Homo sapiens: one gene and its partner. The protein of the gene in region 1 interacts with the protein of each later gene in a pairwise test. Each region holds a gene or a part of one and is shown on either strand. Other genes may lie near its edges.

What was found.
Region 2: the proteins of DMC1 (region 1) and FIRRM interact in a two-hybrid assay, tested with the Homo sapiens proteins (one study listed by BioGRID).

What each region holds. Positions count from the first base shown.
Region 1 is NC_000022.11:38,541,915-38,557,874, reverse strand, and holds part of DMC1 (meiotic recombination protein DMC1/LIM15 homolog), read left to right. Parts: intron 1-2,465; coding exon 2,466-2,518; intron 2,519-5,167; coding exon 5,168-5,209; intron 5,210-7,877; coding exon 7,878-7,950; intron 7,951-15,960. UniProt on the Homo sapiens protein: Participates in meiotic recombination, specifically in homologous strand assimilation, which is required for the resolution of meiotic double-strand breaks.
Region 2 is NC_000001.11:169,801,811-169,817,770, forward strand, and holds part of FIRRM (FIGNL1-interacting regulator of recombination and mitosis), read left to right. Parts: intron 1-810; coding exon 811-915; intron 916-1,358; coding exon 1,359-1,499; intron 1,500-2,264; coding exon 2,265-2,430; coding exon of another isoform or gene 2,431-2,438; exon of another isoform or gene 2,439-2,576; intron 2,577-4,193; coding exon 4,194-4,278; intron 4,279-5,980; coding exon 5,981-6,119; intron 6,120-15,960. UniProt on the Homo sapiens protein: Regulates PLK1 kinase activity at kinetochores and promotes faithful chromosome segregation in prometaphase by bridging kinase and phosphatase activities.

The DNA of each region.
Region 1 (15,960 bases):
AGTATAGTGAGTTGTAGGCACCATTAAATGTTCAAATACTATTTATAAAATTAGTTATCAACTTGAAAATTGAAGGAATGTACCATTTAATCAGTCAGAGGCCAATCCATTACAAAAAGGTCAAATTATCTTAAACGTTAAAAGGTCTCAAATAGCAAATATGCACAGGTTATTACCAAATTTATTTATTTATATTCTATTTTATTTTTTGAGACACGGTCTCACTCTGTCACCCAGGCTAAAATGCAGTGGCTCCATCACGGCTCACTGCAGCCTGAGTAGATGGGACTGCAGGCACAGGCCAGCATACCTGGCTAATTTTGGTATTTTCTGTAGAGACTGGGTTTCGCCATGTTATCCAGGCTGGTCTTGAACTCCCAGGCTCGAGCGATCCACCTCCCTCGGCCTCCCAAAGTGCTAAGATTACAGACATGAGCCACCATGCCCATATTGCCAAATTTAATATGAAAATAGTAATCTATGGGTTTGATTTGTGTCTCTATTTTTAAATCTCCCTATATTTAAAAACACTATTTCTACACTTAATTCTAAATTTTCCTGAGTCTCAAAAAGGAAACAATTGTGCTATCCCAAATAATTTGGGGTATCCTCACAGGTAAATTTTGGGGTTACCTTTTCAGCTGATTGAGATTACATATCAACCAGGAATTTTGTCTGGGATTTTCCAGAGGTATAGCTTTCCAGGGTAATTTTTCTCAGGAAGAAGAGGGACAAATAAAGCTTTCTTTAATAGTTGCTAGCCCAACCACCATGGCACACGTTTACCTATGTAACAAACCTGCATATCTGGCACATGTACCCCTGAATTTAAAATAAAAGTTGAAGAAAAAAATAGTTGCTGGGCCTATAAGATTTCCAAGTGTATTCCCTCCAAATGGGTTGATCGCTTAGCCCATGTCCTTTAGATTTAAGTTGTGCAGGTACACTATCTAGATTTTTCTTTTCCTTATTGAAGTCTGCAGCCCTCACTAAATTTGTGGATAACTTCCAACATTGTTTCAATTTACATTTAAATTGCTCTCTTAAACTATGTAAATGTAAATGTATTGGATTATCTATATATCTTAAATTTTTGTCTGACCTGTGATCACATCCCAAAAAATCATGTTAATAGACTACATACAAGGTTTTTAAAGTGCCCCTACCAGGTCTTAGCACAATTAACACAATTAATATGTGTTGCATTTAATGAATGAATGAGATCATGACTTAAATTTAGGCCTTTTCTTATTCAGAGCTTTAAATGCACTACAACATTGGGCTACCAATTAAATGTATGCTGTCAGAATCTGACAGTTACTCTTCTAACTGCTAGCATTACCTACAACATCTTTGACATTTACTATTCTGACATGTCCTCCATAATATTTGGTTTATGTGAGATAACCTGACCATAATGACAATCACTGGATTTTCCTAATACCTGTTTTTCATATGTTTTTCAGTATATTAAAAACTGAAGCCGGGCATGATGGCTCATGTCTATAATCCCAGCACTTTGGAAGGCCAAGGTGGGCAGATCTCTTGAGCCTCAGGAGTTTGAGACCAGCCTGGGCAACATAGCAAGACCCCAGCCATACAAAAAATAAAAAATTAGCCCTGTGTCAGGTGACAGAACAAGATTCTGTCTCAAAAAAGAAAAAGAAAAAACATTGAAAATTCAATTGACTATAGAAACATAGTTCCAGCACAATATTAAATACCCAATTAATAACTAAGATGGGCTGGGCATGGTGGCTTATGCCTGTAATCCCAGCACTTTGGGAAGCCAAGGCAGGCGGATCACCTGAGGTCAGGAGTTCGAGACCAACCTGGCCAATATGGTGAAACCCCATTTCTACTAAAAATACAAAAATTAGCCTGGCGTGGTGGCAGGCACCTGTAATCCCAGCTACTCGTGAGGCTGAGGCAGGAGAATCTCTTGAACCTGGTAGGCGGAGGCTGCAGTGAGCCAAGATCACGCCACTGCATTCCAGCCTGGGCGACAGAGCAAGACTCCATCTCGAAAAAAAAAAAATAATAATAATAATAATTAAGACGATCTGTAACTCCAATTCAATTCTAAAGACTAGTAAGACATAAGGCCTTGCTAACCCATTTACTATTTTTTTAAGTTTTTTCTTAAAATAATTTATTATTATTATTTTTTAAGCCTACAGCATGCAGTATTCCCAGGTTCCATTTACTATTGAAGTAAGAACGATAGGGCTTATCATTTGTTTTGCTGATCCACTTGCCCATACACAATAGAACCTGTGATCTAGCAAGTGGCATGCTATTTGTTCAGCCAAGAATTGCTGTTCATGTTCTGTAGATAGATAGGTAGATGATAGAATAGATAGATAGATACATAGATAGGAAGGATACTAATGATATGAATACTTTCTCCTCTCTTAATATTTCTATTTCTATTCCTGTTACTAATGCTTTCTTTCTATTTCCAGTAAGTTACTAGGAGGTGGAATTGAAAGTATGGCAATTACAGAAGCTTTTGGAGGTAGGTAGAACCTTAATATTTTGTTAAATGAAATATTATACACACACACATACACATCTATGTGTATACATACACATATAATTAAATAAACAACCAATAATAAATTGTAAGTATTTTGGAACTTACAAAATCTCAATTATCATAACATGAGATCATTCTGTACTGCAACGAAAATATATATGAACATTAACAGATGGGTCTTATCAACACTTTTCATCTTTTATTTGTGATTCCTATAGAAGATAATAGATTTTTTTTTTTTTTTTTGAGACGGAGTCTCGCTGTGTCACCCAGGTCCAGGCTGGAGTGCAGTGGCGCAATCTCGGCTTCCTGCAAGCTCTGCCTCCCGGGTTCACGCCATTCTCCTGCCTCAGCCTCCCGAGTAGCTGGGACTACAGGCGCCTGCCACCACTCCCAGCTAATTTTTTTGTATTTTTAGTGGAGACGGGGTTTCACCATGTTAGCCAGGATGGTCTTGATCTCCTGACCTCGGCCTTCCAAAGTGCTGGGATTACAGGCGTGAGCCACTGCGCCCAGCTGATAATAGATTTTTTTTCACTTATTTGTTCAAAAGGTAATTGAATAATGAGGCTGATTTTATTTCTAGGCAATTAATGTTCCATGAACATAGAGACTAGATTCCCTCTTCCCTGATTATATCCTCTATTTTTTTTTTTAAATAATAGATAAAGGGTCTCGCTATGTTGCCCAAGATGGTCTCGAACTCCTGGACTCAAGCAATCCTCCCACTTTGACCTCCCAAAGTATTGGGATTACAGGCATGAGCCACTGCACCCGTCCTATCCTCTATTTTTAAAAAGCAATTCATGCATAGCTACACTGTGTATCACATCTGGGAATTCCAGTATTTGCTGTCCTTGGAGAACTAAATCTGTTTTTTTTTTTTTTTTTTCTGTTGACTTGGGCACTAAATCTGGTTTTCATTATTTCTGTTGACTCAGTCTTAGTGGCTTACCTTCTTCTGTATTTATTGGTGTTTCTGAGCTTATTGTTTGATTTTAATCTATGAAAGTTCAATGGACCTGGATTGGTAGGTAGGAAAGTTTTCCTCCAGAACGAATTTGCTTTTGCTGGTAGCTAGGGGATGGCACCAGTTTAAGACTACTTCAGCTCCCCTTTAAGGACCTCAGTTCAGTAGGGGAACCCCAGGCTTTCTTTCCTGTGGTGGGGTCTTTATTTTATTTTCATTTATTTATTTATTTATTTAGAGATGGAGTCTTGCTCTGTCTCCCAGGCTGCAGTGCAGTGGTGCCATCTCGGCTCACTGCAACCTCTGCCTCCTAGGTTCAAGCAATTCTGCCTCAGCTTCCTGTGTAGCTGGGATTACAGGCAACTGCCACCACGCCTGGCTGATTTTTTTTTTTTTTTTTTTTTTTTTTGGAGATGGAGTCTCGCTCTGTTGCCCAGGCTGGAGTGCAGTGGCCTGATCTTGGCTCACTGCAACTTCTGCCTCCCAGGTTCAAGCAATTCTGCCTCAGCCTCCCAAGTAGCTGGGACTATAGGTGCACGCCACCACACCCAGCTAATTTTTTATTTTTTAGTAGAGATGGCATTTCACCATGTTGCCCAGGCTGGTCTCGAACTCCTGAGCTCATGCAGCCTGCCCGCCTCGGCCTCCCAAAGTGCTAGGATTACAGGCATGAGCCACCATGCCCAGCTAATTGTTGTATTTTTGGTAGAGATGGGGTTTCACCATGTTTGCCAGGCTGGTCTCGAACTCCTGACCTCAAGTGATCCATTCATCTCATCCTCCCAAAGTGCTGGGATTACAGGTGTGAGTCACCGCACTTTACCCCAGGTGGTAGGGTCTTAAACTTTCTTTTTTTTTTTTTTTTTTTGAGACGGAGTCTCGCTCTGTCACCCAGGCTGGAGTGCAGTGGCGCGATCTCGGCTCACTGCAAGCTCCGCCTCCCGAGTTCACACCATTCTGCTGCCTCAGCCTCCCGAGTAGCTGGGACTACAGGCGCCCACCACCACACCCAGCTAATTTTTTGTATTTTTAGTAGAGATGGGGTTACACAGTGTTAGCCAGGATGGTCTCAATCCCCTGACCTTGTGATCCACCCGCCTCAGCCTCCCAAAGTGCTGGGATTACAGGCATAAGCCACCGCGCCCGGCCTTAAACTTTCATTTATATGACTGTTACTAAGGAAAACTTGATTTAAATTAATTTATATTAAACAAATAAGGCCGGGCGTGGTGGCTCACACCTGTAATCCCAGCACTTTGGGAGGCTGAGGTGGGCGGATCACCTGAGTTCAGGAGTTTGAGACCAGCCTGGCCAATATGGTGAAACCCCATCTCTACTTAAAATACAAAAACTAGCCGGGCGTGGTGGCAGGCACCTGTAATCCCAGCTACTCAGGAGGCTGAGTCAGGAGAATCGCTTGAACCCGGGAGGTGAAGGTTGCAGTGAGCTGAGATCGTGCCACTGCACTCCAGCCTGAGTGAGAGCAAGACTCTGTCTCAAAAAAAAAATAAAAAATAACATCCGAGATACTTTATAAGTAAGATTTGCCAGTTGGAAAAGAAAAAGAAAACAGTAATATTCTAAAGCCATGTTTTATTCTTTATGAAAATATCTGGAAATTATGCATTTTTAAAATCATTTTTTTCTGTATTTCACAGAATTTCGTACTGGAAAAACCCAGCTTTCTCATACCCTCTGTGGTAAGGATATATAACAACAATAACAATAATAATCATGGCTATTACTTATCAAACATCTACTATGTGCCTGATACTCTAAATAATCTCATATCTGAACATACTTGCAAGGAAACTAAAACACAGGCAGATTAAGTAAACTGCCCGTGGTTATACAGCTGGTCTTTGAATGTGTGATCCTTGAGGTGATGTATGTGCTGCACTATGAACACCTGAGTAGAAATAGAGAGAAGTTGAATGGGTGTATGAATGTGTTGGTGAGGAGTCCACTGTCTCAGTTTTTCCCATTCCATCTTTTCTATATCTTTTTTAGAAGAGTGACACAAAATCTATTGAGTCCTAGAATCTTTCACTTTCCATGGCATAAAATTGGCCCTAAGAGAGACTTAAAAACAAAATTGTTTTAAACAAAATAACGAAAGATATCTCCTTTTCCACAAATACACTACTGTGCATTTCTTTGAGCTATGGAGAAGGAACTTGGCAAAGTGGTTAAGAAAGGAGTTCTGGCCGGGCCCGGTGGCTCACGCCTGTAATCCCAGCACTTTGGGAGGCCGAGGCGGGCGGATCACAAGGTCAGGAGATCCAGACCATCCTGGCTAACACGGTGAAACCCGGTCTCTACTAAAAATACAAAAAAATTAGCCGGGCATGGTGGCGGGCGCCTGTAGTCCCAGCTGCTGGGGAGGCTGAGGCAGGAGAATGGCGTGAACCCGGGAGGCGGAGCTTGCAGTGAGCCGATATCGCGCCACTGCACTCCAGCCTGGGCAACAGAGCAAGACTCGTCTCAAAAAAAAAAAAAAAAAAAAAAAGAAAGGAGTTCTGGAATCAAAATGCCGGACTTCAATCCTGGTTCTATCGTTAGTAGCTGTGTGACCTTGGGCAAGTTGCTCTACTTCTCTAATTTCCCCCACCAATAAAATTGAAATAATGACAGTGCCAAATGTTAGGATTGTTTTGAAAAGTAAATGAAATAATGTATGTACCTGGTATAAAGTAGCTCCTTAGTGTTAACTACTACTACATAAAAAGTAATTGCAGTCTAGCGTGGTGGCTCACACCTGTAATCCCAGCACTTTGGGAGGCCAAGGCAGGAGGATCTCCTGAAGTCAGGAGTTTGAGACCAGCCTGGTAAACATGGTGAAACCCTGTCTCTACTAAAAAATACAAAAGTTAGCTGGGCCTGGTTGAACATGCCTGTAATCCCAGCTACTGGGGAGGCTGAGGTCAGAGAATCACTTGAACCCGGGAGGCAGAGGTTGCCGTGGGCCGAGATCGTGCCACTGTACTCCAGCCTGGGCGACAAAGTGAGACCTGTCTCGAAAAAAAAAGTAAATGCATTTTTAAAATTTGACATACATTAATTTAAAGGTAACATATTAGTTATATAGCATAAATTATATTTGTGACTTTTTTTTTTTGAGACGGAGTCTCGCTGTGTCACCCAGGTTAGAGTGCAGTGGCGCGATCTCAGCTCACTGCAACCTCCGCCTCCCAGGTTCAAGCGATTCTCCTGCCTCAGTCTCCTGAGTAGCTGGGATTACAGGCACTCACGACCATGCCCGGCTAATTTTTGTTTTTTGTATTTTCAGTAGAGATGGGGTTTCACCATGTTGATGAGGCTGGTCTCAAACTCCTGACCTCATGATCCGCCCACTCGGCCTATTTGTGACTATTTCTTTCTTTTTTTTCTTTTTTCTTTCTTTCTTTCTTTCTTTCTTTTTTTTTTTTTTTTTTTGAGATGGAGTCTTGATCTATCACCCAGGCTGGACTGCAGTGGCACGATCTCAGCTCACTGCAACCTCCGCCTCCCAGGTTCAAGCAATTCTCCTGCCTCAGCCTCCAGAGTAGCTGGGATTACAGGCATGCACCACCACACCCAGCTAATTTTTGTATTTTTAGTAGAGACAGGGTTTTACCATGTTGGTCATGCTGGTCTTGAACCCTTGACCTCAAATGATCCACCCACCTTGGCCTCCCAAAGTGCTGGGATTACAGGCATGAGCCACCATGCCCGGCCATATTTGTGACTATTTCTTGTAGAAAGAAAGTTAGTAGGTTGGGCGCGGTGGCTCAAGCCTGTAATCCCAGCACTTTGGGAGGCCGAGGTGGGCAGATCACGAGGTCAGGAGATCAAGACCATCCTGGCCAACATGGTGAAACCCCATCTCTACTAAAAGTATAAAAATTAGCTGGGTGTGGCAGTGCCTGCCTGTAGTCCCAGCTACTTGGGAGGCTGAGGCAGAAGAATTGCTTGAACCCGGGAGGCGGAGATTGCAGTGAGCTGAGATTGCGCCACTGCACTCCAACCTGACGACAGAGCTAGACTCGTCTCAAAAAAAAAAAAAAAAGAAAAGAAAAGAAAAAGAAAGAAAATTAGTAATATTTAAATTTTATTTCCATTCTTTGGGAGAACTAACTTTCACGAATATCTTCCATTGTGAAAGATAGTGAAATTATTTGTTGAATAACAACTATGCTGGCAGAATACTTATAATTTCACACTGGTTAAGTAATATGAAAATATAACATGTTGTTTAGAAACGAAAGGATCATGACTCTTTGCAAAATGTACTAAAGAGTTGCAACAGCAGATTCCATGTGTATTTATATAGTCATGTGTACAAAGTTTATTCACTCCTATTAATATAAATTTTTAATTGCTTCCTAGTGACAGCTCAACTTCCAGGAGCTGGTGGCTACCCAGGAGGAAAGATTATCTTCATTGATACAGAAAATACTTTGTAACCTTTTTATTTAAAGTTGCTAACATAATAGTGTGATATAGGAATGTTACCACTGAAGAGTTTGTCTGAGATATACAATCTTTGTAGTCATTCCATAAACCAGTAGTAATGAGACAAACCAAAGGGAAAACAATTACTGTTTAAGTTCTCCAATCACTTTGTATTTAATGAGGTTTCACTTCTTCATATGGGTTTATGAGACAAAACAAATACATGAGAGGAAATTATATCATCATTTTTAATCCTCTTACTTCTCTAAAGATGTTGCTTAATAGTTAGAAAAAAGATTTTTTTTTTTTTGAGACGGAATCTCCCTGTTGCCCAGGCTGGAGTCCAGTGGGGCAATCTCGGCTCACTGCAACCTCCATCTCTTGGGTTCAATCAATTCTCCTGCCTCAGCCTACCGAGTAGCTGGGATTACAGGTGTGTGCCACCACACCTGGCTAATTTTTTTGTATTTTTAGTAGAGACAGGGTTTTGACATGTTGACCAGGCTGTTCTGGAACTCCTGACCTCAGGTGATCCACCTGCCTCAGCCTCCCACAGTGCTAGGATTACAGGGGTGAGCGACTGCGCCTGGCTGAAAGATTATTGACTCACTGAAAGTCATGGTCCCAAATGAAGGGAACGGTATGAAGAGGGTGAAAGTTAATAAGGAAAACAGGCAGAACCTGTTTGGGTAACACAACGAATTGCAGTTTAATTAAAGTGTAAGGTATTCCAGGATATGGGCTAGAAAGATGATTGGGATCTTAGACATGAAAGGCTTTGAAACAAGATAGTGGGTGTAAACTGGATACTTTAGCAATATTCTAGGCAAGTAATGAGAACTTGATCTAGGTTGGAACTGGTAAGAATAAAAAGAAAAGGAAAAGAAGTATTAGGAAAATTGATAGGACTTGATGGCTATATTTGGTAGACAAAGGAAAGACAGGTTTGAGAAACCGCTCAGGTTTTTTGTCTAGATACTAGGAGAATAGTTATGTGATGCTAACAATAGAACTGGAAAGATCATGCTTCAGAGAAAAAGAGAAAAGGTGATGTTTCATTTTAATGTACTAATTTTACTTTTTTTTTTTTGAGACAGTGTCTTTCTCCATCACCCAGGCTGGAATGCAGTGGTGCAGTCTCAACTCACTGCAACCTCAGCTTCCCAAGTAGCTAAGTTTACAAATGTACACCACCACACCTGGCTAATTTTTGTATTTTTAATACAGATGGGGTTTCGCCATGTTGGCCAGGCTGGTTTTGAACTCCTGACCTCAAGTGATCCACCCACCTCAGCCTCCCAAAGTGTTGGAATTATAGGCGTGAGCCATCACGCCTGGCCTAATTTTTTTCTTCTTTTGAGACAGGTTCTTGCTCTGTTGCCCAGGCTGGAGTGCAGTGGCCCAATTACACTCACTGCAGACTCGAACTCCCAGGGTCAAGTGATCCTCCCACTTCAGCCTTCTGAGTAGCTGGAACTACAGGCACATACCACCACGCCTGGCTAATTTTTTTTATCTTTTGTAGAGACCAGGTTTCACCACGTTGCCCAGGCTGATCTCCAACTCCTGGGCTCAAGCGATCTGCCTGCCTTGGCCTCCCAAAGGACTGGGATTACAGGCATGAGCCATTGCACCCAGCCATCATTTTAATGTATTGAATATGATGTACATGAGGATATCCAGATGGCACTGGGAAATATTGAATTCAGCTTGAGAAAGGGGTAGGCCCAGAAATATGGACGAATTAACCAAGGGGGAAAGAGAACTTATAGAGAGAGAAGAGAGGAGAATTGAGAACATAACTTTGAGGTATGTTTATATTTAGGAAGAGGACTAAAATGAGAAACCCAGAGACAGAGGAAGTAGAAGGAAATCTGGTTGTAAAAGTCAAGCAAAAGGAAAGTTTCAAGACGATGAGTTGTCAGCAATGTTACACACACACGGATTTTGAGGATACAGCCTGAGAAAGATCATTATAAGTTCAAAATTAGGAGTTCAAGCGAACATTTGCCATAGGGTGAGGTGATAGAAGCTTTATGTAAACAAACAACAAGGGAGGGAGGCAGTATGAAATTGACCAATGAAAGGAAGAAGGCTAGGCACCGTGGCTCACGCCTGTAATCCCAGCACTTTGGGAGGCTGAGGCGGGTGGATTACCTGAGGTCAGGAGTTCGAGACCAGCCTGACCAACATGGAGAAACCCTGTCTCTACTAAAAATACAAAATTAGCCGGGCGTGGCGGCACATGCCTGTATTTCCAGCTACTCAGGAGGCTTAGGCAGGAGAATCGCTTGAACTGGGAGGCGGAGGTTGCGGTGAGCCGAGATCGTGCCATTGCACTCCAGCCTGGGCAACAAGAGGGAAACTCCGTCTCAAAAAAAAAAACAAAAACAAATAGGAAGAAAAAATATACTAGTTTGAGGAGGTATTCAGAGGAAATTCTTTTTAATAACAAAGAAGACCTATGCACATTTGTAAGGCTGTTCACAGTGAAGCCCCAGCCTGCCTCTCCAAGCTCAGTACTCACCATTGCCACTATTAGAGGCAAAGAGATGAATCTGTTTTAGTCCATCCCATTGCCTGTAAACATACTTTGTTATCAAAATTTGCACATATGTCTAGTCTCACTCCAGTGATCCCAGCACTTTGGGAGGCCAAGGCAGGAAGATCACTTGAGGCCAGGAGTTCAAGACCAGCCTGGGCAACATAGTGTCTCTACGAAATAAATTTTAAATTAGCCAGGTGTGGTTGCTATAAATCCCAGCTACTTGGAAGGCTGAGGCAGGAGGCTTATTTGAGGCCAGGAGTTCATGATTAGCCTGGGCAACATAGCAAGACTCTGTCTCTACCAAAAGAAAAAAAATCTAAAAACATTGTACATCAGCAGTTATTTAGATTTAACTATAAAGATTTTTGTTTTCTTTGTTCATTATGGTTTCTTGCATCCCAGATGTTATTTTTTCCTGTATTTTTGTTTTGCTGTAATACTTATTTCTTTCAGAAATGTAATACAGGTGGTAAACTTTGAACCTTAGTATGTCTGAAAGTGCCTTTATTTTGCTCTCACTCTTGGCTGTTAATTTGTCTGGTCACAGAGAACTTTGCATGGTATATTTCTATCTTCTTGGGTATTTGCTCCTTCCATCCCCATCTCACAGTCTTTCTGAATCATACAAATCATTTAAGGCTCTCATTTCAAGGCCTGCTTTTTCTAATCTTCCCTAATTACTCAATTTAGAAAATCTTGTCCTTCTTGACCTATTATAGAATTTACTATCTAAAATACTCACTTAGAAAACAAAACAGAGAACTGTTTGCAGAAGTCCCTTTTCAGAAATGCCAGGCATAAGAAGTCTCTGAAAGAGCCTTTTAACTTGGGGAAGGAGGGTGAAATGTCGTACAGGGCTTTAACAAGGGTGCTCAGCTGGAGTTCAGCTGGTTTCAGAAACAATTGATTAAGGATGATTCTTATCTCAGAGAGGGAAGAATTGTTCTTGCAGAGTAGCAGCCACTGTTTGGGCAATTTGGAGTTTTTTTTTTTCGAGATGGAGTTTCACTCTTGTTGCCCAGGCTGGAGTGCAATGGTGCGATCTCGGCTCACTACAACCTCCATCTCCCAGGTTCAAGCGATTCTCCTCCTCAGCCTCCCGAGTAGCTGCGATTACAGGTGCATGCCACCACACCCGGCTAATTTTGTATTTTTAGTAGAGACAGGGTTTCTCCATGTTGGTCGGGCTGGTCTCGAACTCCCGACCTCAGGTGATCCACCCACCTTGGCCTCCCAAAGTGCTGGGATTACAGGCGTGAGCCACGATGCCCGGCCTGCAATTTGGATTTTACTAAGAACAATAGGAATACTTAGGAGCTAAGTCATATGCAAGAGAGAGTGGAGAAGAACAGCTGGGTGGGGGTGCAGGGCACTGTGGCAAGGGCCACATTGGAGTGTTCTCATTCTTTCCGTGTCTCATACTTATACTGCTGTCTCTTGATAGTTTTCTTTTTATATGTTTATATTTTGCCTCCTTAATTATGTTTTAAATTTACCTAGGGCATAGGTTGTCTTAGGACTCCTTATATCCTCCATAATGCTTTGCCTTGGTAATTGATTAATATGGTAATTAATTCCATATGGTAATTGGTTAATAAATATTTATAATTGATCTGAACTTCCCTTCAGCATAAGCCCAAGTTTTTTCATTTTAAATTGTTTTGGCTGGCCGCTGTGGCTCACACCTGTAATCCTAGCACTTTGGGAGGCCGACGCGGGCGGATCACGAGGTCAGGAAATCGAGACCAACCTGGCTAACACGGTGAAACCCTGTCTCTACTAAAAATACAAAAAATTAGCCAGGCGCAGTGGTGGGCACCTGTAGTCCCAGCTACTCGGGAGGCTGAGGCAGGAGATGGTGTGAACCCGCGAGGCGGAGCTTGCAGTGAGCCGAGATAGCGCCACTGCAGTCCGGCCTGGGCGACAGAGCGAGACTCCATCTCAAAAAAAAAAAATTGTTTTGTTTTGTTTTTGGGACAGGGTCTCGCTCTGTCGCCTAGGCTGGAGTGCAATGACGTGATCATGGATCACTGCTGCCTCAACATCCAGGACTCAAGTGATCCTCCCACCTCAGCTTCTCAAGTAACTGGGACTACAGGTGCGTGCCACCATGCCCAGCTAATTTTTGTATTTTTTTGGTAGAGATAGGGTCTCACCATGTTGCCCAGGCTGGTCTCCAACTCCTGAGCTCTAGTGATCCTCCCACCTGGGCCTCCCAAAGTGCTGGGATTACAGATATAAGCCACCATGCCTGGTTTTGTTATTCCCTGTCTTTTGTATAAAAGCCATATTAACTGGGGTGAGATGATATTTCATTGTAGTTTTGATTTGCATTTCTCTGATGATCAGTGACATTGAGCACCTTTTCATATAGCTATTTGCCATTTGTATGTCTTCTGTGAACCCAGAGAATCTGAGACAGGTCTGAGTTAGTTTAGAGAGTTTATTTTGCTGCCGGGCGCAGTGGCTCATGCCTGTAATCCCAGCACTTTGGGAGGCCAAGGTGGGCAGATCACAAGGTCAGGAGATTGAGACCATCCTGGCCAACATGGTGAAACCCCGTCTCTACTAAAATACAAAAAAAAAAAAAATTAGCCGGGCATGGTGGCACGTGCCTGTAGTCCCAGCTACTCAGGAGGCTGAGGCAGGGGAATTGCTTGATTCCAGGAGGTGGAGGTTGCAGTGAGCTGAGATCGCGCCACTGCACTCCAGCCTGGGGACAGAGCAAGACTCTGTCTCAAAAAAAAAAAAAAGAAAGTTTATTTTGCCAAGATTGGGGATACGCCCGTGACACAGCCTCAGGAAGTCCTGACGACGTGTGCCCAAGGTGGTTGGGGCACAGCTTGGTTCTACACATTTTGGGAGACATGAGACATCTATCAGTATATGTAAGAAGAACATTGGTCCAGTCTGGAAAGGCGGGACAACCTGAAGCAAAGACAGGAAGACTAAGCAAAGCAAGGAGTGGGCTTCCAGGTCACAGATAGGTGAGACACAAATGGTTGCATTCTTTTGAGTTTCTGATTATCCTTTCCAAAGGAGGCAATCAGATATGCATCTATCTCAGTGAGCAGAGGAGTGACTTTGAATAGAATGAAAGGCAGGTTTGCCATAAGCAGTTTCCAGTTTGAGTTTTCCTTAGTGATTTTGGAGGCCCAAGATATTTTCCTTTCACACTTCTTTTGAGAAATGTCTTTTCAGATATTTTGCCCATTTTTAAATAAGATTATTAGATTTTTTTCCTATAGAGTAGTTTGAACTTTTTATATATTCTGGTTATTAATCCCTTGTCAGATGGATAGTTTGCAAATATTTTCTCAGCAAGGCAATTTTACTTCTATAAAAGGGTGTGACTCACTGATGGAGCAATGGCGAGAGCACATCTGAACAAGGGAGGGGAAGGGGGTTTTATTCCTGACTCAAGTAGCCCCTACTGCTGTGTCATTCCCCTATTGGCTAGGGTTGGACTGCACAGTCTAAGCTAATTCCGACTGGCTATTTTAAAGAGAGCAGGGTTATGAGTCGGAGTGGTGGAGTGAGTAGTTTGGCAGGAAGGATGGTTAGGAACAGGTGACTAAAGGTGACTCAGGTCAGAGCAGGTGACCAGGGGTGACTTAGGACAGAGCAATTGACCAGGGGAGACTCAGCATGGAGTAGATGACCAGGGGAACAGATGTAAACTACTGATTAGAACTGATGGAAAAGGTTGTTTACTGAAACTAGGGGCAAGAAAGCAAGAAGAAGGAGGAAGTTAACCTTTAAAATGGAGAACAAAGAACAGGGGAGCTGAACATACTGATACATTGGTTCCTTGGAGAGGATCTCAAAACTCATTGTACTTAACAATTTACAGGCAGCTGGGCACTATGGCTCACACCTGTAATCCCAGCACTTTGGGAGGCCGAGGTGGGTGGATCACGAGGTCAGGAGATCAAGACCATCCTGGCTAACATGGTGAAACCCCATCTCTACTAAAAATACAAAAAATTAGCCGGGCATGGTGGCGGGCACCTGTAGTCGCAGCTACTCAGGTGGCTGAGGCAGGAGAATGGCGTGAACCTGGGAGGTGGAGCTTGCAGTGAGCCGAGATCATGCCATTGCACTCCAGCCTGGGTGACAGAGCGAGACTCCGTCTCAAAAAAAAAAAAAAAAACAATTTACAGGCTAAAACCTTTGAAGAGGAATTTATTATATCCTACAGTTGACTGTGCTTGTGTGGTATTACTCAAGAAATCTTTACCCAGTCCAGTGTTCTACAGAGTTTCCCCAATGCTTCCTTTTAGTAGTTTCATAGTTTGAGGTCTTAGATTTAAGTCTTTAATCCATTTTTATTTGATTTTTGTATATGGTGAGAGATAGGGGTCTAATTTCATTCTTCTGCTTATGGATATCCCATTTTCCCAGCACCATTTACTGAAGAGACCGTCCTTTCTCCAATGTATGTTATTGGCACCTTTGTCGAAAATGAGTTCACTGTAGGTGTGTGGATTTGTTTCTGAGTTTTATATTCTGTTCCATTGGTCTATGCATCTGTTTTTATGCCCATACCGTGCTGTTTTGGATACTATAGCTCTATAGTATAATTTGAAGTCAGGTTATGTGGTTCCTTTAGTTTCGTTCTTTTTGCTCAAGATAGCTTTGGCTATTCTGGGTCTTTTGTGGTTCCATATAAATTTTAGGGTTGTTTTTCTATTTCTCTGAAGAATGTCATTGGTATTTTGATAGGAATTGCATTGATTCTGTAGATTGCTGTGTTTAGTATGGACATTTTAACAGTACTGATTCTTCCAACTCATGAACATGCAATATCTTTCTGTTTTTTGTGTGTCCTCTTCAATGTATTTCATCAATGTTTTATAGTTTTCATTGTAGAGATCCTTCACTTCTTTGGTTAAGTTAATTTCTAGGTCTTTAATTTTATTTGTAGCTATTGTAAATGGGATTAATTTTTGAATTTCTTTTTCAGATTGTTCCCTGTCGGTATTTAGAAATGCTGCTGATTTTTGTATGTTGATTTTGTATCCTGCAACTTTACTGAATTTGTTTATCAGTTCTAATAGCTTTTTGGTGGAGTCTGGGTTTTTCCAAACATAAGATCTTATTATCAGCAAACAAGGATAATTTGACTTCCTCCTTTTCAATCTGGATGACCTTTATTTATTTCTCTTGTCTGATTGCTCTAGCTAGGACTTTGAGAATTATGTTGAATAACAGTGGTGAAAGTGGGCATACTTGTTCCAGATCTTAGAGGAAAGACTTTCAGTTTTTCCCCATCTAGTATGATACTAGCTGTGGGTCTGTTGTGTATGGTTTTTATGTTGGGTTATGTTCCTTCTATACCCAATTTTTTGAGGGTTTTTTTTTTATCATAAATGAACGTTGAATTTTATCAAATGCTTTTTTCAGCATCAATTGAAATGATCATATGTTTTTTGTCCGTTCTGTTGATATATCACATTGATTTGTATA
Region 2 (15,960 bases), on another chromosome or scaffold:
TGAAATGGGTTTCTAACTTTAGCTTTGAATCGTAATCTTTCAAATTTCTTGTACTCATAGTCACTTGATGATTCTCTATCTGAAATATTTCTTAGAATTTGTTCTTGACCACCAGAAAAAGATTCAACTGTTACATAGATGAAAATGGATGTTGAGTGTTAACAGGCCTATGGGAAACAGTATTTTCTTTAGCTACATTGTATTGTTGACTGTGTTGCTATTCTTATAATGTTTAGGTCATTTAAATTGTTAGAAAGATCCAAGTATTAAGATCTAGGGTGGCTAACTTTTCACAGACAAAAAGCTTGTTTGTAAGGTCATTTACTATACCCTTAATTCAGGAAGGTTAGCTTGAATTGGGTCAAAAGGAAACTGGTTAGAAAATAAGTGAGTAGTGAATAGGCGATTCAGTGCAAATTCCTTCCAGAAAATACCCTTGTAAATGACTGTATGAATGTGGATTCTTCAAGACAGTCAAATTTATTGTGCGAAAGTAATACTTTTATTTTTTGCATCTCTAAAACATGAACTTTGAGTGATTTTTTAAAAAAATTGATGCTATTAAATAGATTCAAACCATAGAAATGGAAAATAAATTTCTGTTTGGGGCTTTTGGGGGGATTATGTTGTAAAAATACCTTTTCTCTGTATTTTGTGCTTAATTAGGTACAATTGTTAAGCTAGATGATAGCCTGTGGATGTTACTAGTGCAAAATCAAATTATCGTATTGTGTTTTCTCTGTAAAGTTTTGTCTTGTCTTTTCTAGTGATTTCTCTTATTCCTGTTTATTACTTGATTTGTTTTTACAGACTGTGAAATTATTCGATGACATGATGTATGAATTAACCAGTCAAGCCAGAGGACTGTCAAGCCAAAATTTGGAAATCCAGACCACTCTAAGGAATATTTTACAAGTAAGTCAAATGTATTAGAAAGCAGGAGAGAGAGGGAGCTTAAAGAATGTCAAAATTTTTATACTGATACTGATTAGCTATGTATTCTTATGTAATGGCCTAATGTTGGAATTAAATTTATAGAATTAAAGACGTGAATATAGAAACATGAATTCTGAATAATAAACTCTTATAAGAAGAGAAGTCATCAAGCTAGCTGACCCTACCTGTATTTTCAAGGATATGTGTGGAACACCTGCCATGTGTTTTGAAGTTTGTGTTAGTATTCTAAATGGCTAGACAGTTGTTCCAGTATTTGTAGTTCTGATAGACTAAAGTTCTGTGAAAAGAGGAAGAGACTGTGTTTTGTTCATTGCTGTATTTGTAGCACCCAGCATGCTGACTAATACCTTTTCAGTGCACAAAAAATATATTCTAAGTGAAATTTCCTTCCTTATTCACAGACAATGGTGCAGCTCTTAGGAGCTCTCACAGGATGTGTTCAGCATATCTGTGCCACACAGGAATCCATCATTTTGGAAAATATTCAGAGTCTCCCCTCCTCAGTCCTTCATATAATTAAAAGCACATTTGTGCATTGTAAGGTGAGTAAAGGTCTAATTATACTTTGAATGGTATATAATCAATGTGCATAGGGGCTGAGTAAAATAATGTTTGTATAAGATTTTACATTTTAGTCTATATTATTGAAATAAACTTTTCCATAGAATAAAGAACATGTAAGTAAATAATTGTTGCAAAAAAAGTGGTTTTAAGGAAGTCATTAAAAGTGGCTTTTTGGGGTTTTTTAGTTTTATCTTATTTCCCCTCTATAAAGAAAGAAGTTTTAAGAATTTGTGTTGAGACAGACACAGGGATCCTGAAATAGTTATGTCATGTTGCATTGACCAATATTCAATTACCATTATGATTAGATGTCAGAACTTCCTTTTATAAAGGAAAGTTAATCCTTATTTAGTCCATCTCTACATGCCAGAGGTAGCCTTGAGGCACAAAAGCTTGCCTAGAATTTATGGGTCACAGACAGTTTTAATATTGCTATTTGTTGGGCGAATGAAAATCACTAGTTAATTAATACCTCTCTTTGCTGATAGGATGCTAAAAATGTCACGCACCTGGCCTAATGTTACCCTTTTTTAGTTCTGTATTTGCAAGATCATGGAAGTCAGAAATAATATTTTATACATGCTTGCATCTCTTGAAGCACACTATATTTAATGGATGTTCACTAAACAATGAATGAATATGTGATTCAGTAAATTTATGATCTCTAATAGTATGAATTAAAGTAAATTTGGCTCTTGAGCTTTGATTTGTTTTTTCTCTCATTTTTATTTATCCGTAATCAGAATAGTGAATCTGTGTATTCTGGGTGTTTACACCTAGTTTCAGACCTTCTCCAGGCTCTTTTCAAGGAGGCCTATTCTCTTCAAAAGCAGTTAATGGAACTGCTGGACATGGTTTGCATGGACCCTTTAGTAGATGACAATGATGATATTTTGAATATGGTAATAGGTGAGTGAAGAAAACTTTCTGCTTAGTATATGGTGACTATAAATCATGTATCAATTAAAATTGTCTCTAATGATTCATGTTATTTTCTTACTAATTATGCATTAAAATTGATTTAAATCTTACCAAATAAATTTTTAATCTTGAAATTTGGAATTTGTAAAATTTATTTTGGGTACCTTAACCTAGATTTGCGTATTTAGTTACTGTAATTTCTCCACAATGATTAACTTATATAACTTTATAATCTCTGAGGTTGTCCATATTCAGAGACAATAACTTTCACATTTTTTTAACCATAACTGATATTGAGATGCAGTTTATATTTCCTTCCAGAATACATATAAATACGTGCATATGTGTATGTAAATATGTCTATTCTCATATACATATTATAATGAAATAACTCATTTTACATGTGATGCACTTTATACTAGTTTATTTTTATTTTATTTTATTTTTTTGAGACAGAGTCTCACTGTGTAGCCCAGGCTGGAGTGCAGTGGCACAATCTCGGCTCACTGCAACCTCGCCTCCCGGACTCAAGCGATTCTCCTGCCTCAGCCTCATGAGTAGCTGGGATTATAGGCGTCCGCCACCACACCTGGCTAATTTTTGTATTTTTAGTAGAGACAGGGTTTCACCGTGTTGGCCAGGCTGGTCTTGAACTCCTGACCTCAGGTAATCCACCTGCCTCAGCCTCCCAAAGTGCTGGGATTACAGGCATGAGCCACCGTGCCCAGCCAATACTAGTTTATTTTTAAAGAATTGCTGGTCGTAACACACTTCATTGATTTTATCACTCATTAATGGATTATGAACAAGAGTTTGAAAAACAATATAAAGGCAAAGTTTGCATTCAAAACTTTGGTATAAAGAGAGTAAGTTGGTTTTGTGCAGTGTATCAGGCACCTGTTGCTCTGCAACACACCACCTCAAAATCTATTTATTCACTATTTATTTATTCATGATTCTGTGAGTCTGCAGTTTAGGGTGGGATGTCCTGAGACAACTTTCTCTGATCCACCTGGGGCACTAGCTCACCCATGTGACTTCAGTGACTTCATTCACATCTGGCTGTTGGCAGAGGCAGAAGTACTTGAGAAAGCCATGTGCATCATCCAGCAGGTTCACCCTATCTCAGATACCTGATGCCAGTGGTTTCAGGGTTTCTAAGAGTAGCAAAAGTGTGAGCAGGTCGCTGTGTGCTAGCACTTTTCAAGTTTCTGCTTGCCTTAATTTTATTATTGTCCCCCGGGCCACAGCAGGTCATAGCGTTTAGCCCAGAGTCATTGTAGAAAAGTGTGGATTCACAAAGGGCAGTCATTGTGGCCATTTTTATAAATAATCTACCACAGACTGAGTAAAAGCCTTGCATGAATACCATGGATATTAATTTGAATTCTTCCTTTTTAGATTTTCTTTCCTTAGCAATTTGTTTTGTCATTTTGGATTAGAATTATATCTGTAGAATATTTCAGTTATAATAGGGTACAACTTTTATTCCACTGAACATCTTTAGTTTTATTTAGGTCATCTGGTAGGTATAAACTTCAGAAGTTAATATTCAATATTTATAAAAACCATTAACAAGTGTGACACTTAAATAGTTTAAATAATTCTTTTGACACAACTGTTTCCAAGTTGTGTTACGTATTTTAATTCAATCAAATGTTGAAATTGTTCAGTAGATAGTTTTAATTATAGGAGAAACTCACCCCCATGACATTTGGATGTCTTAAAAGTTCTGTTATCTTTCTTTGCAGTTATTCATTCTTTATTGGATATCTGCTCTGTTATTTCCAGTATGGACCATGCATTTCATGCCAATACTTGGAAGTTTATAATTAAGTAAGTTTGTTTGTTATTTTTTACTTTTTAGAAAATGTTTTCCATATTCCCCAATCTTAATTATTCATGATTCTTTAGATTGCATTTAAAACATTTTGTGTGAATTTAATGTTCACTGACACTGCTGTCTGATAATCCAGATATTCTACATGTAGCTCTCAAGCCAAATTGGACTTCTTTACCCTGTGGCCTCTAAAATTAAAAAAAATGTTCTTCCTAGTTAGCTAGTACTTCAGAAATAATGGGCCATGGGCCAGACTAGAACTTAACCACTTTTCTTCTGCTACTGTTGTTTAACCAGCTATCAAGTATCCTATTTCTAGGATTAGATAAATTGATAACTATAATTAAAACTGAATATAATCTTTTCATTAGGTACTTTTAAGTTGTTCACACTTAATTCCATTTGTACAGTAATTTTAACTTTCTGAAACTGAAGCATTTTAAAGGGTCACCAGGGATAGTGCCTGTAGCATTCATCAGATTCTTAGGGGTGAGAGGAGATGTGGTTGAGATGTAAAAATGGTTAAGAATATCTACTTTATACACATACATAAAACATTAAAGGTCAGTGTATTTTCAGGTCTTAGGTACTTTTCTTGTACTACCAGGACATTAAGTTGCCATTCAGTGGTTAAGAGTGTTGCCTGGGAGCTGTATCACATGTGCTTAAATCCATTCTTGAAATCATTTACTCCTTCTGAGCCCTTGGGCTATTTGGTTAATTTCTCTGAACGTTAGTTTGCTCATCTGAAAATGGAAATAATAATAGCAACTTCTTGACAGGGTTATAGTGAGAATTGAGTTCATCACTGTGAAATGCTTAGAAATGTGCATGACACATAGTTAATACTCAAGGAATTAGCCACATCACTATCATCATCACTGATTATCTTCCACTCTTACCCTCTTCCAGTTCATTTTCTGCCCAGCAGAATGATCTTTTAAAAAGTAAATCAGATCATGTTACTCTATTGCTTGAAGTCTATCCCATTTGATTAAGAATAACAACCTAATCCTCTGTGGATGCTGCCTCCTTCACCAGCCTGTCTCATGCTGCTCTCCCTACTCTTAGTTCCTCAAACATACCAAACTCTCCTGTCCCAGAGTCTTTTCGTGGTTTTTCCATCTGCCTAGGATGCTTCTCTCTCCTATTTTGTGTACCTTGCTAACTCCTGCTTACTGTCTTTCAGTTCTCAGCTTAAGAGTTATATCTTCATGATAACATTCTTTGATATCCTTACCCTAAGATTAAGTTAGATTGATATCCTTACCCTAAGAATAAGTTAGATTAGGTCTCTCTATTGTAGCACCTTAGACTCTGTCATTTGACAAATCACAGCCCTAATTAATTATTCTTAAAATTATTTAACATTCTCTCTCATGCTAGACCACAAGTTTCATGCAGGTAAGGCGGAGATTGTGTCCATTTGTTTGACCCCTTTGTCTCCAGGGCCTGGTAGAATGCCTCATACATAGTAAGAATTCAATTAATATTTTACACAGAGAAAAAATTAGCAACTTATTTAAACAAATATAACTGCTTCAGAGGTAAACTGGGCACATCTTAGTTATATTATGTGATATATGATGCTTTTTGATTGTTTTTTTAAATGTTCTACAAGGTAGATATTGTTAGAGGTCCTAAGTTACTTGATGTGTTACTTGTGGTGATTGTATTCTTTTCTTTTTATTCATTTAGGCAGAGCCTTAAGCACCAGTCCATAATAAAAAGCCAGTTGAAACACAAAGATATAATTACTAGCTTGTGTGAAGACATTCTTTTCTCCTTCCATTCTTGTTTACAGTTAGCTGAGCAGATGACACAGTCAGATGCACAGGTAAAATTTGGGCTAATAGCATTTTAAACAGCAACTCTTATTTTCTTTGGCAGTTAGTAAATCTCATTTGAATGTCTGGGTCAGTCTATTTAAGAGGATTTTAATTTATTTCATTTGGGTGTTTTTTTTTGATCTGTGGGATTATTTATATCCCATAATTACTTTTCACCCAGAGCATTGTATTAGATTCCTAACTGCTGTCATTGCCTCTGGGGTCTGCCTGGCTCCCTCTTTGCTTGGTAACTGGTTGGTCACAGCATTCTTCTCAGAATCCTTTCATTCTTTTCTGCATGAGAACAAAAATTCTTTTGTTCATATTTGTATAAGATCTGATATAGCTGCAATCAATCTTGCATTTTTTCTTCACCAACGCATTGCGACCTTTAGGGATACAAGTATGTTTGTGCATGTATATGTATGTATCAGTCTTTTAAATTTGATATAGTCATACATTTGTTTTTATTTTGAAAAGTTAGAGTGTTGAATTGGTATCCCATTTATGAAACATTATATTCTAAAAATTTGTAGTACGATTATTGGGAATTATAACTCATTTTCCTGTAACACTGTTATACATAGTACCTTTTGCTTTCAGACTAGCCCTCAATTTTATTTAACTATAGTAGTCCTAAATTATAAGATTAATAGTACTCAGGACCTAACAGTTATATGTCATTTGTTTTTTTTTTTTTTGAGATGGCGTCTCACTCTGTCACCCAAGCTGGAGTGCAGTGGTATGACCTTGGCTCACTGCAGCCTCTGCCTCACGGGTTCAAGGGATCGTTCTGCCTTAGCCTCCTGAGTAGCTGGGATTATAGGCGCCTGCCACCACGCCTGGCTAATTTTTTTAGTAGAGACGGGGTTTCGCCATGTTGGCCAGGCTGGTCTCGAACTCCTGACCTCAGGTGGTCCACCCGCCTTGGCCTCCCAAAGTGCTGGGATTACAGGTGTGAGCCACCGCGCCCAGCCTATATGTAATAATTTTAATGGGACCATGAATTGAATATTTCTTCCTTGAATAGCAATGACATAGCCCCTTCTATTGTACATCTGCAAGCTGATACAGGGAATTCCTTTGTACCTGCGCTCTTCCCTGCCAGTCAGCTATGGGGGTGAAAGTGTAGGGGTTCATCCAAGTCCTAAAACTGGTAGCAACTCCTAGGGCAGGGCTGATCTGGAAGGACAGACCCTAGGGGAGGGTGGAACTTTAAAAAGAAGTTCTGAAGGTAGTAAGAAGGAAATGAGGAGTAGTGTTAGGAAGGGGCTAACTTTTTTCTTCTTGCTTCTCTTCTTTATCTCACCTGCCCCTCCCCTTGTATCCCTTCTTCCTTTTTCCCTTTCCTTTTTTGTCCTCACTTCATTCGTGCATCCTTTCTGATTCCTCTTACCTTGCTAAAAGGAGAAGTTTGTTTGGGTATCCTATATCAATGGCAGGAAGGTTGTTTTCTTCTTTACCTTTATCCTATAGATTCATATTCTCAACACCAACCTCCTCCTTTTTCAGTTTCCTTCTTGCTTCTCTTGACACCACAGAGTTTGCAGCTAGTACTTGGAGAGGAAAATTAAACAGAGATACTTGGACCAAGAGTAAGATGAAGAAAGTCTAAACAACAGTATAGTCTATAGTGGCAAGAGAGAGTATGGGGGCTGCTTAGCCAGGGTGGCTGTACATAAAGTATATCTTCAGTTTATATAAACTGCTTATAGATGGAAATCAGAAAATTTAAATTCTCTTAACTGTCCAAGAAAATTCTCATTTTTTCAAATTTGGGACTGATAAATGTGACCAGTTCTGCTTACTGTCCATTGCCTGAAATGGAGCTTTGAGGTGGACTGTATAATTTCTTCAATCTTAACTCCAAATTCTGATCAGCGACGCCCTCTGCTGTTCACTATTAATATTTATTTACCAATCAAAGTAAAGTATTGAAGTTTTCCTGGCAGTTTTCACTTTGTGTTTTAGTCCATTTAGGCTGCTATAACAAAATCCCTTAAACTGGGTAAGGGATTATAAATATTAGAAATTTATCTCTCACAGTTCTGGAAGCTGGGAAGCCCAATATCAAGGCACCAGTAGATTTGGTGTCTAACGAGGGTGTGCCGTCTGCTTCAAAAATGGCCCCTTGTTGCTGCATCCTCACTTAGTGCAAGGGGCAAGACAGCTCCCTTCAACCTCTTTTATAAGGGCACTTATGTCATTCATGAGGGCAGAGCCCTCATGACTTAATCACTTCCCCAAAGGCCCCACCTCTTAATAGTATCACATTGGGTGTTAGGTGTCTGGGAGGACACCAATCTTCAAGCCATATCATCTCACTTGGAAAAAAGTCAAAATAAAACCAGTAGATTTAATTAATATTACACTATTTATAGAAGCATGTGATGTATCATTCCTTGTATTAATTTCCTGGGGTTGCCGTAACAAGTTACCACAAACTAGGTGGCTTAAAACAATAGAATTTTATTCTCTCACATTTCTAGAGGCAGAAGTTCACAGTGTGTCAATAGGGCCATGTTCTCTGGAAGGCTTTAGGGGAGAATATATTTCATATCTTTCTCTTAGCTTCTCGGTGTCACTGGCAATCCTTAGCTTACTTTGGCTTTCTGTGTCTTCACATCATCTTTTTATAAGAACACCAGTGATAGTGATTAAGGGCATACCTTACTTTAATATGACCTCATCTTAACTAATTATGTCTTCAATAACCCTATTTCCAAATAAGGCCACATTCTGAAGTATTGGGAGTTAGAACTTAAAGCTTTTTGGGAGGGACACAGTTCAACCCATAACAACCCCTAAAATCGATATTTATTCTCAATTAAGTCTTGAAATTGGTTTCAAAAAGAGAATATTCTATTAGAGTTTTTAATGTATAGTTTTAACATATAGTTCTTTAGCCCCCAATTTTTTTTTTTTTTTTTTTTTTTTTTTTTTTTTTTTGAGACGGAGTCTCGCTCTGTCGCCCAGGCCGGACTGCGGACTGCAGTGGCGCAATCTCGGCTCACTGCAAGCTCCGCTTCCCGGGTTCACGCCATTCCCCTGCCTCAGCCTCCCGAGTAGCTGGGACTACAGGCGCCTGCCACCGCGCCCGGCTAATTTTTTTGTATTTTTAGTAGAGACGGGGTTTCACCTTGTTAGCCAGGATGGTCTCGATCTCCTGACCTCATGATCCACCCGCCTCGGCCTCCCAAAGTGCTGGGATTACAGGCGTGAGCCACCGCGCCCGGCCTGCCCCCAATTATTTAGTTTTTCTATAAACAGGGAAATTTATTTGTGTGGCCCTTAGAACTAATTTAATTTCCACTCTAATTCCTACTTATGTTTATATAATGCTTTTAGAAATTTGTATTATTCAGAAAATAAACATATACTATTGTATCTGTTGCCTACACTTAGATTTTATTGCCTGCTATATTTAAATTTTATTAGTATTTTAATTGTTTTATTAAAGAAAGAATGTGCCTGTAATCTCAGCACTTTTGAGAGGCCAAGGCAGAAGGATTGCTTGAGCCCAGGAGTTTGAGACCAGACTGAGCAACACAGGGAGACCCCCATCTCTACAAAAAATAAAAAAATTCTCCAGGCCTCATGGCACATACCTGTAGTTCTAGTTACTTGGGAGACTGGGGTGGGAGGATGCATTGAGCCCAGGAGATTGAGGCTGCAGTGAGCCATGATCAGGCCACTGTACTCCAGCTTGGACAACAGAGTGAGAGCTTGTCTAGATAGATAGATAGATAGATAATCTAAATAGATAATAGACAGATTATCTAAATAGATAATAGACAGATTATCTAAATAGATAATAGACAGATTATCTAAATAGATAATAGACAGATTATCTAAATAGATAATAGACAGATTATCTAAATAGATAATAGACAGATTATCTATCTAAATAGATAATAGATTATCTAAATAGATAATAGATAGATAGATTAGATAGATAGATAGATAGATAGAGCTTGGACAACAGAGTGAGAGCCTGTCTAGATAGATAGAAACAAAGAAAGAAAGAAAGAATGGTGCTCATATTTTAAAGCATTGAAAAATGGTCTTCCTTGCTTATATTACCCACACCTTCTTTGTTGGCATTAAGATGCAAACTTTGTTTTAAACAGTTGAGTAAATCAAAGATGGGACTGTTAAGTTATTTGTGTTATTTACCTGCTTTTTGAAAATGTAAAAATAAAACTCTAGGTTTAATTAGTAGTATGCTATTTAGTAATGAAGTAAAGCTAGAGGCTTCGAACAAATCTTGTGTAATTTCCTCTTGAATGAGAGAGAAAATTTAAAGTAAGCAAACAAATAAGTTGTGTGTCACCACTCATTCAGTCATTTAACAAGTATTTCCAGAGTACTTATTCTGTGCCAGGAAATGTTGTAGGTGCCCTCAACAACTTAGAGTCTAGCCTGAGACACAAGTAAGTAGGTAATTATTATAGAATGGTATGATCTTTGGAGGACTGGGTATTGGCTGGCTCATGGGAGTACAAGATAGGTACCCAGTGATGAAGTCAGGAAAGGTTTCTTATGGTGATATGATGACGTCTATGCTGATTATAAGGTCAGTGTAGAATAAACTTTGTGCTTTTAAATTTGCATAGCACTGTATTAGAGAGTTCATCTTCAAAATAATCGAAAAGGCTGAGTGTGGTGACCCATGGCTGTAATCCCAGCACTTTGGGAGGCCGAGGTGGGCAGATTGCTTGAGCTAGGAGTTCGAGACCAGGCTGGCCAACATGGTGAAACCCCGTCTCTACTAAAAATACAAAAATTAGCCAGGAGTGATGGTGCGCACCTGTAATGCCAGCTACTTGGGAGGCTGAGGCAGGAGGATCACTTGAACCCAGGAGGTGGAGGTTGAAGTAAGCCGAGGTCATGCCACTGCACTCCAGCCTGGGCAACAGAGTGAGACTCCATCTCAAAAAAAAAAAAAATGATCAAAGAAAGGTGAATTTTCATCTACCCTATTTCTGCTGAGGAAAATGGACTATTTTCAAATATTTTTAATAAGGGTCAAAATGAGGGATCATATTCCATTAGCGAACCATCCAACTCTGTTTTGATTTGGTTTAATGAAGATTTTGCTATATTGGAAAAGAAACATAGCCAATCAACATATAAGTTAAGATATGTTATTTTCATATGAAATAATTCACAAATTAAAGACAGTAATTTATTTGACTTAATTTTATGGCACTATTTAAAGCTGTTTGGATTATAGTGTGTATTATAAACTTGGGTGGTGGAACAACCAATATTTATTGAGCTAAGTTGCTTAAACGTCAGACACTGTTTAAATCTCACAATAATCCTGTATTAGCCTCATTATAGATGAGAAAACTGGGCCACAGAAAGGTTTAATAACTTTCCCCAGATCATATAGTAGTTGTAGTAGGACCAGGACTTAAATCCAGGCAGATGAATCTATAGCCCTCCCTGCATATTATTGGCACTACCCACTGTTTTATCAATTTACAAATGTAATACGTAATCAGAAAACTCACACATATTACACAAGTATCTAACATGGAAGGTTAAATCCTATTTTCGTCTACTAGAAAGAATCACAGGAAAGGTTTTGATTTATTTTGGGGGTGGTTTAACACATTTAAAAATAATGATAGGATTGTGTTATCATTAGAGTCAATAGACAAATCTCTGAAAACAGAACGTTTTATTTGGGAGGAAGTAATTGCACTTTGGAGCATTCATGCAGACCAATTGTTCGGTATGTCCACAGAAAAAGGAGAAGGTTAGCGGTCTTATAAAAAAGGAGACATATTACATATAGCTCTTCAAGAAAGTCCATTGGCACTAGATTTGGGGAGCTGTCAAGCTCTGATTGGTGAGTGATGGCAGTGGGTAACACTGGTCTTAGAGTTGCACTAGTTTCTTTCAGTAGCCCTTAGATAAAACTGGTTTCCGGTTACAGCAGGCAGTTTCAGCAGCCAGGCCTACAGAGAATTACATTTTGGGAGAAATGTTTTGTGCCCTGAGTGCTTTTCCCCTAGGCCTGTTGACTCTGTTTTAGTTGGGTATGACAAGAATGACTCAATTTTTGTAATTAATTTTACATTATACAAGTTGTTTACAATTTGATTTTTTACTTAACAGTTTATCCTTAGGGCTTTCTGTGTCCATGAAGATATATGTACCTGATTCTTATGTGATTATACTATAAATTTATAGTTGACCCTTGAACAATGCAGGTCTGAACTGCACAGGTCAACTTATGCAGACTTTTTTAAATTGTCATTTATTACCATAAAATAATACAAATCTATTATCAAAGGTTAAAATTTATCAAAACTTAGCACACAGAGACCATACATGGTACCATGCAGTTGAGAGAAATGTAAACAAAGGTAAATATGCAGTATTAAATCATAACTGCATAAAATTAACTGTGGTACATATTGTAGTACTATTAGGTTGTGCCAAAGTAATTGCAGTTTTTGCCATTATTTTCTATATATTCAGTATACAATAATTTCATAGCCACTTCCTGTTGCTGTTACTGTGAAAAGTGTTGCAAGGCCATGTGATACTAACCATCCCCACGTGAGCAGTTTGTCTCTCCAGTAAGTAAATTGCTTTTCTCAGTAAAAAGTTATTGCTTGAGGTGCCTCCATATTTTTTCATCATCTTTAATGCAATATGGAAACCCATAAGAAGTGCCACTAGTGATCCTGGAAGTGCTCCCGAGAATTCCTTGATACATATTGTAAATTGAGGTCTGCAACTGCAATTACCTGCCATTTCAGATAGATGATTCTTCTTGTAAATAGACAGTGTTAATACATATACAAAATATGTTAATCAGCTCTTTTTATTAGTAAGGCTTATAGTCAGTGGTAGGCTATTAGTAGTTAAGTTTTGGGAGACTCAAAAGTTATCCTCGGATTTTAGACCACATGGGGGTTGGCACCCCTAGACCCCATGTTGTTCAAAGGTCAACTGTATTTAGGTGTTCTCCACATGATGCACACTTGGTACATTTCAGTTTTCACTATATAAAAAAAGTTTTGTTTTTTTTTTTGTAAAGCGAAAGCAAGTTTATTAAGAAAGTAAAGGAATAAGGCCAGGCGCGGTGGCTCACGCCTGTAATCCCAGCACTTTGGGAGGCAGAGGTGGGTAGATCATGAGGTCAGGAGTTGGAGACCAGCCTGGCCAACGTGGTAAAACCCCATCTCTACTAAAAATACAAAAATTAGCTGGGCACAGTGGTGGGTGCCTGTAATCCCAGCTACTCCGGAGGCTGAGGCAGGAGAATCTCTTGAACCCAGGAGGTGGAGGTTGCAGTGAGCCGAGATCGCGCCACTGCACTCCAGCCTGGGTGACAGAGCAAGACTCTGTCTCAAAAAAAAAAAAAAGAAAAGAATAAAGAATGGTTACTCCATAGGTGGAGCAACCCCTAAGTCTCCTGGTTGGCCACTTTTATGGCCATTTCCTGATTTATATGCTAAACAAGGGGTAGATTATTCCCTTTCTGGGAAAGGGGTGGGCAATTCCCAGAACTAAGGGTTTCTCCCCTTTGTAGATCATATAGGGTAACTTCTGGTTGTTGCCAGGGTATTTGTAAACTGTGATGGAACTGATGGGAGTATCTTTTATCATGCTAATGCATTATAATTAGTGTATAGTGAGCAGTGAGGACAACCAGAAGTCACTTTTGTCACCATCTTAGATTTGGTGGGTTTTGGCCAGCTTCTCTACTGCATGCTGTTTTATCAGCAAGGTCTTTGTGACCTGTCTTGTGCTGACCTCCTATCTCATCCTGTGACTTAGGATGCCTAACCTGGAAATGCAGTCCTGTAGGTCTTGTCCTCATTTTACTCAGCCCCTTTTCAAGATGGAGTCCTCTGGTTAAAACACCTCTGACATATTTCCCTCCTCCCTTTTATAAGGGAACCCTTAATCCTAAGGGTTGTAGAGGGACAAATAGACATCTTCTATAACTTCTTCGGGCTGAATAGGGATGATGATATTCCTGCCTAACTATTGGGGTCTCTTATATTTGGGGTAGAGAGGAGATCAGTCAGAAAGTGTCAGTATGATGAGGGCCATTCATAACTCTCAATTCCAAAAAAAGATGATATCTGGAAGATTAGTAAGTGTTCGATTTAATAAAACATTCAGTAATTCATATTCCTACACAGAATTATCTTGTATTCCTACACAGAGAACAACAGCAGTATATTCTACAACAGTAAAGCAAAATAAGTAAAATTATCCCAAGTAAACTAAATAAGAAGGCTTTCCATGAACTGGGCAACTGTTGGAAACCAAGCTGATTCCAGTATGGGCCCAGAATTAGAATACTGATCCAGATTTTCACATTACCATCTCTCTTGTTTCTTCTGAGCAGCAGCCAGAGATCACTGGTTGGTTCACAGGAATAAGCAGGGTTAGTCTAAATTGCAGAAAAAACCCTCAAGAACAACTGATGAGAAAAACACTCAAAAACACCTAATAACAAGTGTACCATAGTTTTTGAAACATAATTTTTTTCTCTCTCCAGTCTCCCATTTTTACTAAAGGCAAATCATGATAAGACTGATTTGCTTTTTTATACTTGGTCTGATTATCTGTATAAAGTACAGCAAGAATAATTATTTTTCACATGGGCTTTTTAAAATTGGCTTTGATGGAACTCTGTTTCATAAGGAAACTCAGATAAGACTTTTTAAAATATGAATTGGGTAAATTCCTTTCCTCTTGAGGTCCCAAGATAACTTGGGGCTCCTGGGCCTGTCAGAAAGTGACATTCTTTATTTACCACAGGTAAGGAACCCTGTACAGGGACTGCATAAACAAGGTATGAGGCAAGTTTTCCCAAGGGCCTTTATTGGCTTTATAAGTCAAGTTTGATTCCTTAAAGGAAAGCACACTATTCCAGCCAAAGCCTTGGTAAAATAACCAGTTTCTCCAGTTGTGTCCTGTTGCAAAAGAAAACATTCGTATTGCACTTATGCAAATAACTATATTGCTGTAAGTTAAGAATATTCATAAATAGGTTCCAAATTCTGGAGAAATCAGAAACAAATATGCTCCAAATTTTATTCACAGTGATATACTTTACTCAATTGTTAAACAGCTCAAAGAAAAGCTCACAACAGCTCAAAAGAAGTTTTCTTGACTCTGAAAAATAAAACAAAGAATCAGCAACATTTTAAACAAAAAGTAAAAAAAAAAAAATTACTTCAGTCTTCTGTTAGTTCAGTCCATGTAGTTAATGCTTGCCCTGTTTGATATCCACGAACACTCCATCTCTTCATGAGAGTCCTGAAAATTTCTTTCCTCTATTTTAATGTCACAATTGCCAAAGTTATCAGAAACCTGCATTGAAAAGCACCTGTCAAAGTCCTGTAGCTGATTAAAAATCAACTTTTGATTAAAACAAGACAACAATTGTCTGTGGATGACAAAAAGCCTTAGGGCAGCCTCTGTTAAAGCCATAATTGACTGGGGATTTTGGTTACTTCTGTGGCAGATAACAATTTTATATAACAATTATAGTATACATTAAGTCATATCAGAATTATAGTTGTTTCCCATAATTTTGGAACACATGCCAATAACATATTTATACAAATATAGCCCAAAGAAAGCCAAACATCATTTTATATTTGACTATGCTTCCTGTATGATTTTTATACCAAAAAAGCCAAGTTTCACCTTTGCACTAGTGTCCTATTGATGTTAACCCCAATTCTTAATAAAACTGTATAGACAAATCTATCTAATTTTAATCAGTATAAAATGTAATCAGTATAAAACTGTATAGACAAATCTATCTAATTTTAATCAGTATAAAATTTAATCAGTATAAAA